3 separate regions of the Homo sapiens genome follow, and all the other regions are linked to region 2. The links come from fine-mapping of genetic effects on gene expression. A gene starts in region 2. Each other region holds a variant in brackets. All regions are shown on one strand. Distances are from middle to middle. Region 1 overlaps WNT3 (Wnt family member 3). Region 2 holds the start of TBKBP1 (TBK1 binding protein 1). Region 3 has its middle 19 kb from the start of TBX21.

Evidence for each region.
Region 1: its variant is fine-mapped to the expression of TBKBP1 in sigmoid colon (GTEx, PIP 0.99).
Region 3: its variant is fine-mapped to the expression of TBKBP1 in sun-exposed skin (GTEx, PIP 0.90).

The regions. Positions count from the first base shown.
Region 1 is chr17:46,787,440-46,789,939 of GRCh38, reverse strand. The region is part of intron 1 of WNT3 (Wnt family member 3); the gene reads left to right. It also overlaps a transcript of LRRC37A2 not described here. Among named protein-coding and RNA genes, the nearest start is that of WNT3, 30 kb to the left of the region's middle. The variant G/A (reference allele first, on the strand shown) is at 1,529.
Region 2 is chr17:47,692,847-47,695,346 of GRCh38, reverse strand. TBKBP1 (TBK1 binding protein 1) reads right to left here and starts at 1,186. Exons shown (of 10, transcript NM_001394755.1): 1 at 1,153-1,186. RefSeq lists enhancers at 1-70, 71-750, 751-1,431 and silencers at 528-587, 838-967.
Region 3 is chr17:47,750,447-47,753,289 of GRCh38, reverse strand. No RefSeq gene overlaps it. Among named protein-coding and RNA genes, the nearest start is that of TBX21, 19 kb to the right of the region's middle. The variant T/G (reference allele first, on the strand shown) is at 1,462.

The DNA.
Region 1 (2,500 bases), 910 kb after region 2:
CCCTCCTGGGAATGTGGTGGAAATACCCACCTTGAAAGGTAGAGAGTGGAATCGTTGCCCTGAGCACCTGGGTGTGGTCGCAGCATCCCCCGTGAGGCCTCCCAACCTGCAGCTGCCTCCTGCGTGCGCATCTGCCACTGCTGGCTTTAGGGCCAGGGCCAGGCCCAGCTGGAGGTCCAAGCTGGAGCCCTGGGCAGTGTCCAGTGCACTGTGGCCTCAAAGTGCCCAGCCATGGTTTAGTACTCCAGCTGGCAAGGCCCTGGGTTCAAACCCTGCTCTGAATTTGTCCAGTTGCTTCCCCATGGTGTCATTTGGTTTGTTCCTCTGTCCCTTGTGTTCCCTGAGAGGTTACCTCTCAAAGCTTGGTTAGATCAGATTAAACGTCTTTGGCCAAAGAACATCATAGGGAAGGTTGGGGCCTTCCTGCTGCATCATCTCATACCATTCTACTGTCACACTTCTGGTGGAGGCTTTTAATGATCCAGTTTCCTGGACTCCTCCCCAGAGGCTCTGATCCTGCCACGCTGGTGTTGGAGCCTGGGTGTCTGTATTTTTCAAAACCACCCCAAGTGATCTGCCGTAGTGTATAGCCTGCATCCCTGACCCCAGTAGCCAGCTGGTCAGGGACTGTCCTTGGTTTTCTGAAGAGCATAGAATAAGAGAGTGGATGGGACAGTCCAGGTAGGTGCCAGCCCTGGTGGCCAGTGCTATCAGGTGTGAGGCAGGGAGGGTGGCCTCTGGGCCCCCATAAAGAGGAGAATGGGCTTCCTCAGGGCAGCTCCAGGTTCAGGTAAGAGTCCTTGCAAGACCAGGAGTGCCCCACGCACTGTGCTCCCGGCGTCCAGCATAAGGCCTGGCCCAGCGTGAATGTTTATTGAATAAAGACACACACCAGGCTGGTGGCTCTCTGAGGAGCCCTGGGGAGCTGCTCTAAGAGTGAGCTCCCAGCCAAGCAGCACAGCTTTGTGTGTTCCCCACTGGGCTGCTTCTAAGATTCAAACAAAGGACTCCCAAACTGTGGAGCTAGCAGCTGTGTTAAAAGGCCCAGAGAGCCAGCAGGGCCATGGCCATCACCTGCCCTCAGCTCGCCGTGGAGACAGCCTGTGGGATCTGGGAGAGACGAAGGAAAGGACTGGGCACTCAGTGGGGCTGCTGAGGGCAGGGAAAGGAGGCAGGGAGGTCCTCGCAGGGAGGTCCTCGCAGGGCCACTGCACCTGCTGAAGCAGGTGCTAGATTCTACATGGAAACGAGTGAAAGAATCCCTCCTCTCAAAAAACTCACCATCAATGGAGTCGGTGGACAATTCACTTGAGTGCATTGAAGGTTACCTGTGACGGATGTATAAGAGCTGGGGAAATGGCCAGAGGGAACAATTTGAATTGGAGACATTAAAAGGGGATTTAAACATGGGACCTTGAGGGATGAATAGAAGTCTGGAGTCAGAAGCGAACAAGAGGGCTGGGCAGGCTATGTCTTGTCTTTTACCAGAACTGGCTTGAAGGGTATAGCAATGTGGGGACCCAGCAAA[G/A]TCCTGGTGTGGGAACCAGCAGACTTGGCTGCTCAGAACGGCAGCCTAACTCTGTAAGGTTCTCATTTCCCAATCTGTAAAATGGGAGACTGACTTAGGGTTTGGAGGGGTCAGGAAGGGGAGAAATGTTACAAGGTTAAAATGAACTAAAGATGCAAACATGGCTTAGGAAAAATTTGAATTAGAATTCCACTTAGTGGAGTGGGAGGCAAAGAAACAGATGGCCAAGCTCCAGGAGGAAAAGCTGGCCAAGCTGAGCTCAACTTCAAGGCCCAGCTCGAATGTCACCTCTTTGAAGGGGACTTCTTTGCCTTCTCCCACTTCCTTCCCCTCAGCACACCTATTCCTTGAAGTCCCAAGTGGGACTTCTCACACTCTGCAACTGACTGGTCACCTGCACTGAGGTGGGGTCACTGAGGAGGGTGGAGGCTACATCTTTTTTTTTTTTTTTTTTCTGAGGCAGAGTCTCACTCTGTTGCCCAGGCTGGAGTGCAGTGGCACAATCTCGGCTCACTGAAACCTCTGCCTCCCAGGTTCAAGCGATTCTCCTGTCTCAGCCTCCAGGGTAGCTGTGATTACAGGTGCCCACCACCACGCCTGGTTAATTTTTTCTGTTTTTAGTAGAGACAGGCGTTTCGCCATGTTGGCCAGGCTGGTCTCGAACTCCTGACTTCAGTTGATCTGCCTGCCTTGGCCTCCCAAAGTGCCGGGAATACAGGCGTGAGCCACCGCGCCCGGCCGAGGCTACATCTCATACATCTTGGGCACATAGTATGCAGGTACTGAATGAGGCCCAGCCTTCAGATGATCAGGTCTGGGGCACTTCAAGAACGATCTGCGTGCTATGAGAGAGACAAGCTCTGGCTGGGAGTCAGCAGGCCTGGGCTGTGCTCTCTGCACTGCCTCCAACCAGTGGAGGAACAGCAGGGAAGGCACATCGCTTCCCTGGGCCTTAATTTCCCCAAGGAGCTG
Region 2 (2,500 bases):
GGGGAACCCTACGAGGGGGCAGGAATGACTCAGGCTCCCGAAAGCAGGAGTAGGCAGTGAGGGGGTGCGTGTGTACTTCTCTCGGGCCTGGTTATGAATGTGTGTCTGGGGTTGGCGTATGGGGGGAGTGTGCGTCTGTGAATGAGTGTAGGTGTGTCAGTCAATGAGTGCCTTCGGGGTCGCAGGGGCGTCGGGACGGAGTGGGGCAGCGACCAGGAGGCTGGTGTGTGCACGCGTGCGTGAGCGCGTGGGCAGGGTGGCACGTCCGGGCCGCGTGTCACGTGAGACGCGAGGGGACTGTCCGAGGTGTGTGCGCGCGCTGGAGCGTTATGTGCACCCCGGAGAGGGGGCTCGGCAGGGAGCTGTGAGTTCAGACAGCGGGGCCCCCAGGTCGGGCTGCAGGAGCTTGGGGTGCAAAGGGCTCCGGCGCAGGCTCCAATTCAATCCACCCCCCCCCCTCCGCCACCCACAGGCCCATCTAAGTGCCAGGGAAACGCGAGTGACTGGGTCTGAGTAAGGAGTGTGTGCGCGCGTTTGTAGGGCCGGCCCCACCTTTAACCCTCTCCTTCCCACGCCATCCCCTCCCCCCAGCTCCGCGCGCCAGCGCTTACCACACCCCCCCAGACCCCCGCCCGCCCCTCTGCGCCCACCCCGCTGGCGGGGCTCTGTCCCCGAGGCCGCACCACAAATGCCTCCTTCCTCCGCATTCCTCTCTGGGCCCAGCGCCCGGGTGAGCGCAATGGAAGGCGGCTGGGGAAGGGGTGAGTGCCTCTGTCGGCCCGGGCCCCTCCTGCGGCCCCTTTAAGAGCCGCCCTTTAAACCCCTTTCGCTCGGCCGACAGAAATTGTCGCCCCTCCCCTCTCGGGGGCCGAGACCACGCAGCCCCCTCCCCCACAACCGGCCGAGCCCTGGGCCCCCGGACACCCTCTCGGGGCCGGGGAAGGGGCTCCGGGAGTGGCGCGGCCTGAGGAACGGCGGCGGAGGGGGACGCGAGGGGATGAGGGCGGCCGACACCGGACCCCTTCCCTCCCAGCCATCCCGTGCGGCTGCCAGCCGCCCTCCTGCCGCCTCCTCCTGCCCACCCCGCGACCCCTGGGGCCCAGCCCGGGCGCCGCTCCCCTCCCCCAGCCCTAGCCCCAGCCGGGGACTCACAGCTGCTGCCGGTTCCTGCTTGTAATCGCAGCTTACCCCCTCCGCCTGCTCCCTCCCCAAACGGGCACCAGTGCCCCCACCCCCCTGGTACCGCGCTCTGCTCCTCGCCCTGTCGCCGCCGCCGGGTCTCTCCCCACCCCCCACCCCTCCCCCCAACCCCCTCCCTCCCGTCCGCCCCGCTCCTCCTCCGCCGCCGCCGCCTCCTCCGCCTCCTCCTCCCCGGCTGCTCCGGGTTTCTCCAGCTGGGAAGGCGCCCCGGACCCCGCCGCTGCCACCACCACGTGGCGAGAGGCGGCGGCCCCTACGGTGCGGCCCTTCCTGGCAGCGCGCCCGGAGCCCACCGGCTCCCTGCGGCGCCAGCGGCCCGCGCTGGCGCCCCCTCCCCGACGCCTCCCGGCGCAGTGTGGCGTGGTGGCGTGTGTTGGGGGCGTCTGCGGTCAGTGCAGGGGCCCGGCTGATGCTTTGGTTGTTTTGGTTGTTTAGTTATGGGCTGTATATTTGGGGAGGAAGTGGGGCTATTTATCTGGCTTTTTTTTTTTTTTTTTGGTCTTTGCGCTTTTGAGAAGGAAATCATTAGACCTGCTCTTCGTTGCTCTTGGTAAAAGGGGCATTGCTGCGATAAATACATTGAACATAGGGTACAGAGAGATTAAAGCTGTAACTTCTTTGGAAGTGAGAGTAAACTAAGGAGGTCAAAGATTCATTCATGAAGAAGGACAGCCATCTCCCTCCCCACACACCACTCCCCGGCCACCCTCAAGTACCCACAGGTCAGGGAAATGAAGAAACAACAGATGTCACCCTGTGCACAAAGATTATTTGAGCACCTGCCAAACTGCTGGGCAAGAGAAACAAGTTTTTTGCTACTTTCCTGCTGTGTGACCTTGGGCAAGTTACCTTAACCTTTCTAAGCTGGAGATCATGCCCCACCTAAGCACTCTCATGGAGGAAGAATGGGGATCAGAACTAAATACAGCAGCCTGCGAATGCTCAGGAAGTGTTAACGATGTCATTTTGAGTATTGCCTGGTGGATTAAATAATGTGGACAGAGGCATGGTCAGCCTAGCTGCAGGTAGAGAATGATCAGGGGAACCCTGGAGCACTCTGGCTGAAGAGCATCCTCTGTGGACAGGGAGGCAAAGCCCGGAAGCAGGGGATAAGCTGGGCGGGGGCTTTTGGCAGATTCAGCCTTAGCTGCGAAGACTGCTGGGAACCTGAGCCTACCTTTTTGGCTCCTGAGGTGGGATGGGGGTGGGAATCTCCGAGGGGGAGGATGGAAGGAAAAGGTTTCTTGCTCTCTCTGAGCTTTGAAAAGCAGCAGCTGCCATCTTTCCTCACTGCTGGGAG
Region 3 (2,843 bases), 58 kb before region 2:
CTCTGGGAGGCCAAGGCAGGTGGGTCACTTGAAGCCAGGAGTTCGAGACCAGCCTGGCCAGCATGGTGAAACCGCATCTCTACTAAAAATATAAAAATTAGCCAGGCGTGGTGGCGTACACCTCTAATCCCAGCTACTCCAGTGGCTGAGGCAGGAGAATCACTTGAACCCAGGAGGCAGTGGTTGCAGTGAGCCGAGAGGGCACCATTGCACTCTTGCCTGGGCAACAGAGCGACTGAGACTCCATCTCAGGAAAAAAAAAAATCTGAGAGTACTATCATACTGGTCTTTAAGAAAAAAAATTCTGAGAGAAAGTGATTTCAACCTAGACTTTTATACTGGGTCAAGCTATCACTCACATGTGTAAGTAAAATAAAGACATGTTAAATACTCAGAAGTGTTATTGCCTAAAGACTCCTTGAAGATTTTCTTTAGCAAAATTTAATAAACAAAGAAAGAAGACCACCAAGCAAGGAAGAAGGCAAACCCACTATCATTGAGAATCAGAAGAAACAACAGATTTAGACAACAACCCTATCATCACCCCCTACAAGGACAGCAGATGTTGAAAATACAGAATAGCTAGGTATAGAATGTTTACAAAAACAAATAATGCAATTATAAGGATAAACATGGTTCACACCTGTAATCCCAGCACTTTGGGAAACCAAAGTGGGAAGATCGCTTGAGCCCAGAGTTTAAGACCAACCTAGGCAACATAGCGAGACCCTGTCTCCACACACACACAAAAAATTTCTTTTAATTAGCTAGGTATGGTCGTGCATGCCTGTAGTCCCAGCTACTCAGGAGGTTGAGGTGGGAGGATGGCTTAAGCCCAGGAGGTGGAGGTTGCAGTGAGCCAAGAAAGTGCCACCGCACTCCAGCCTGGGCAACAGAGCCAGACCCTGTCAAAAAAAAAAAAAAAAAAGACACCCATCTGATTGGAGTCCTAAAGGATGAAATTGGAGAGAATAGAAAGAAGCAATATTTAAAGAGATGATGACTGAGAATTTTCAGAGCTCATGAAAATGATGAATGCAAAGATCCATGAAACACAATGTATCCCAAATAGGATAAGGAAAAATAAAATCATGCCTTCTCACATCGTAGTGAATCTTTAGGGCATGAATATAAATAGAAGATCTGGAAAGCAGAGAAAAAACACAGAAGACCTAACAAAGAATGATAATTAGAATAGCAGCAGATCTCACAACAATGAAGCCAGAAGACAGTGGAATTACTCATATAAAATGATAAGAAAAGGCTGGGTGCAGTGGCTCATGCCTGTAATCCCAGCACTTCAGGAGGCCAAGGCGAGCAGATCACTTGAGGTCGGGAGTTCAAGACCAGCCTGGCCAACATGGTGAAACCCCATCTCTACTAAAAATAAAAAAAAAAATAAAAAAAATTAGCCAGACATGGTGGTGGATGCCTGTAATCCCAGCTACTCAGGAGGCTGAG[T/G]CAGGAGAATCACTTGAACCTGGGAGGCAGAGGTTGCAGTGAGCCGAGATCGTGCCACTGCACTTCAACCTGGGTGACACAATGAGTACGACTTCACCTCAAAAAAAAAAATAAATAAATAAATAAAATACTATTCACCCAAAATTGTGTATTCAGCAAAACAATCACTCAATACCAATAGGGAAAATGATAACATTTATAAGAAACAAGCCCAGGGGAAGTTTACAAAGAGAACTTCTCTAAAAGAACTTATAAAGGATTTAAAGATATAGGTAAATGATCCCCCAAAAAAGAGAAATGCAAAAAAGGGAAAATGAACAAAAAGAATGGTAACATAAAGGTAAGTCCAGACAAAGCATAGTCTCAATAAAATAATAAAGGAGTCTAATTTTTAGGGGTTAAAAAAAGAAAGAACTGAAATGAGTAAGTTGAGAGGAGAAAAACATGAATGAAAAAAGGTTATTAGAATGGCTACTAAAATGATAATATAAGAGTTATCAATAAGTCAGAAGAAGGAAGTAAGTTTTTATTAGTAAGTCAGAAGGAGGAACAGTAAGTCAGAAGGAGGAAGATCAGAATTAAAGTGATCTAAAATTATCTTACTGACGAGAAGGGAGGATAAAACATCATTCATTATTAAATATACTTATTAAAATGTATAGATAAGCCACTAAAATAAATAAATTATAGAAATGCAAACAAGTAAAAGGAAAAAAAAGTGTAATAAATAGGGGAAAACTGAGCTGAGCATGGCAGCTCACTCTTCTAATCCCAGTGCTTTGGGAGGCCAATGCAGGAGGATCACTTGAAGCCAAGAGTTCAAGAGCAGCCTGGACAATATAACTAGGCCCTGTTTCTACAAAAAAAAAAAAAAAAAAAAAAATTTTAATTAGCTAGGCTTCATAATGTGCACATCTGTAGTCCTAGCTATTTGGGAGGCTGAGGCAGAAGCATCACTTGAACCCAGAAGTTCAATGCTGCAGTGAGCTATGATCACACCATTGTACTCCAACCTGAGTGACGGAGTGAGACCCCATCAGAGGTGGGGTCAAAAAATAGTGAAAGAAACCATCCCCCAAAAGACAAAAAACCAGCACTTGAGGTTATGACCAGTCGAATAAGATAAGGAAAATAAATTAGAAGCATAATGATTAGAAACAAGGAAATAAAACTCTCATTTTTTTTACTCTCTTTTTTTTTTTTTTTGAGACAGAGTCTCGCTCTGTCACCCAGGCTGTAGTGCAGCGGTGCGATCTTGGCTCACTGCAAGCTCCGCCTCCCGGGTTCATGCCATTCTCCTGCCTCAGCCTCCTGAGTAGCTGGGACTACAGGCGCCCGCCGTCATGCCCGGCTAAAACTCTCATTTTTTCAAATAATATGAT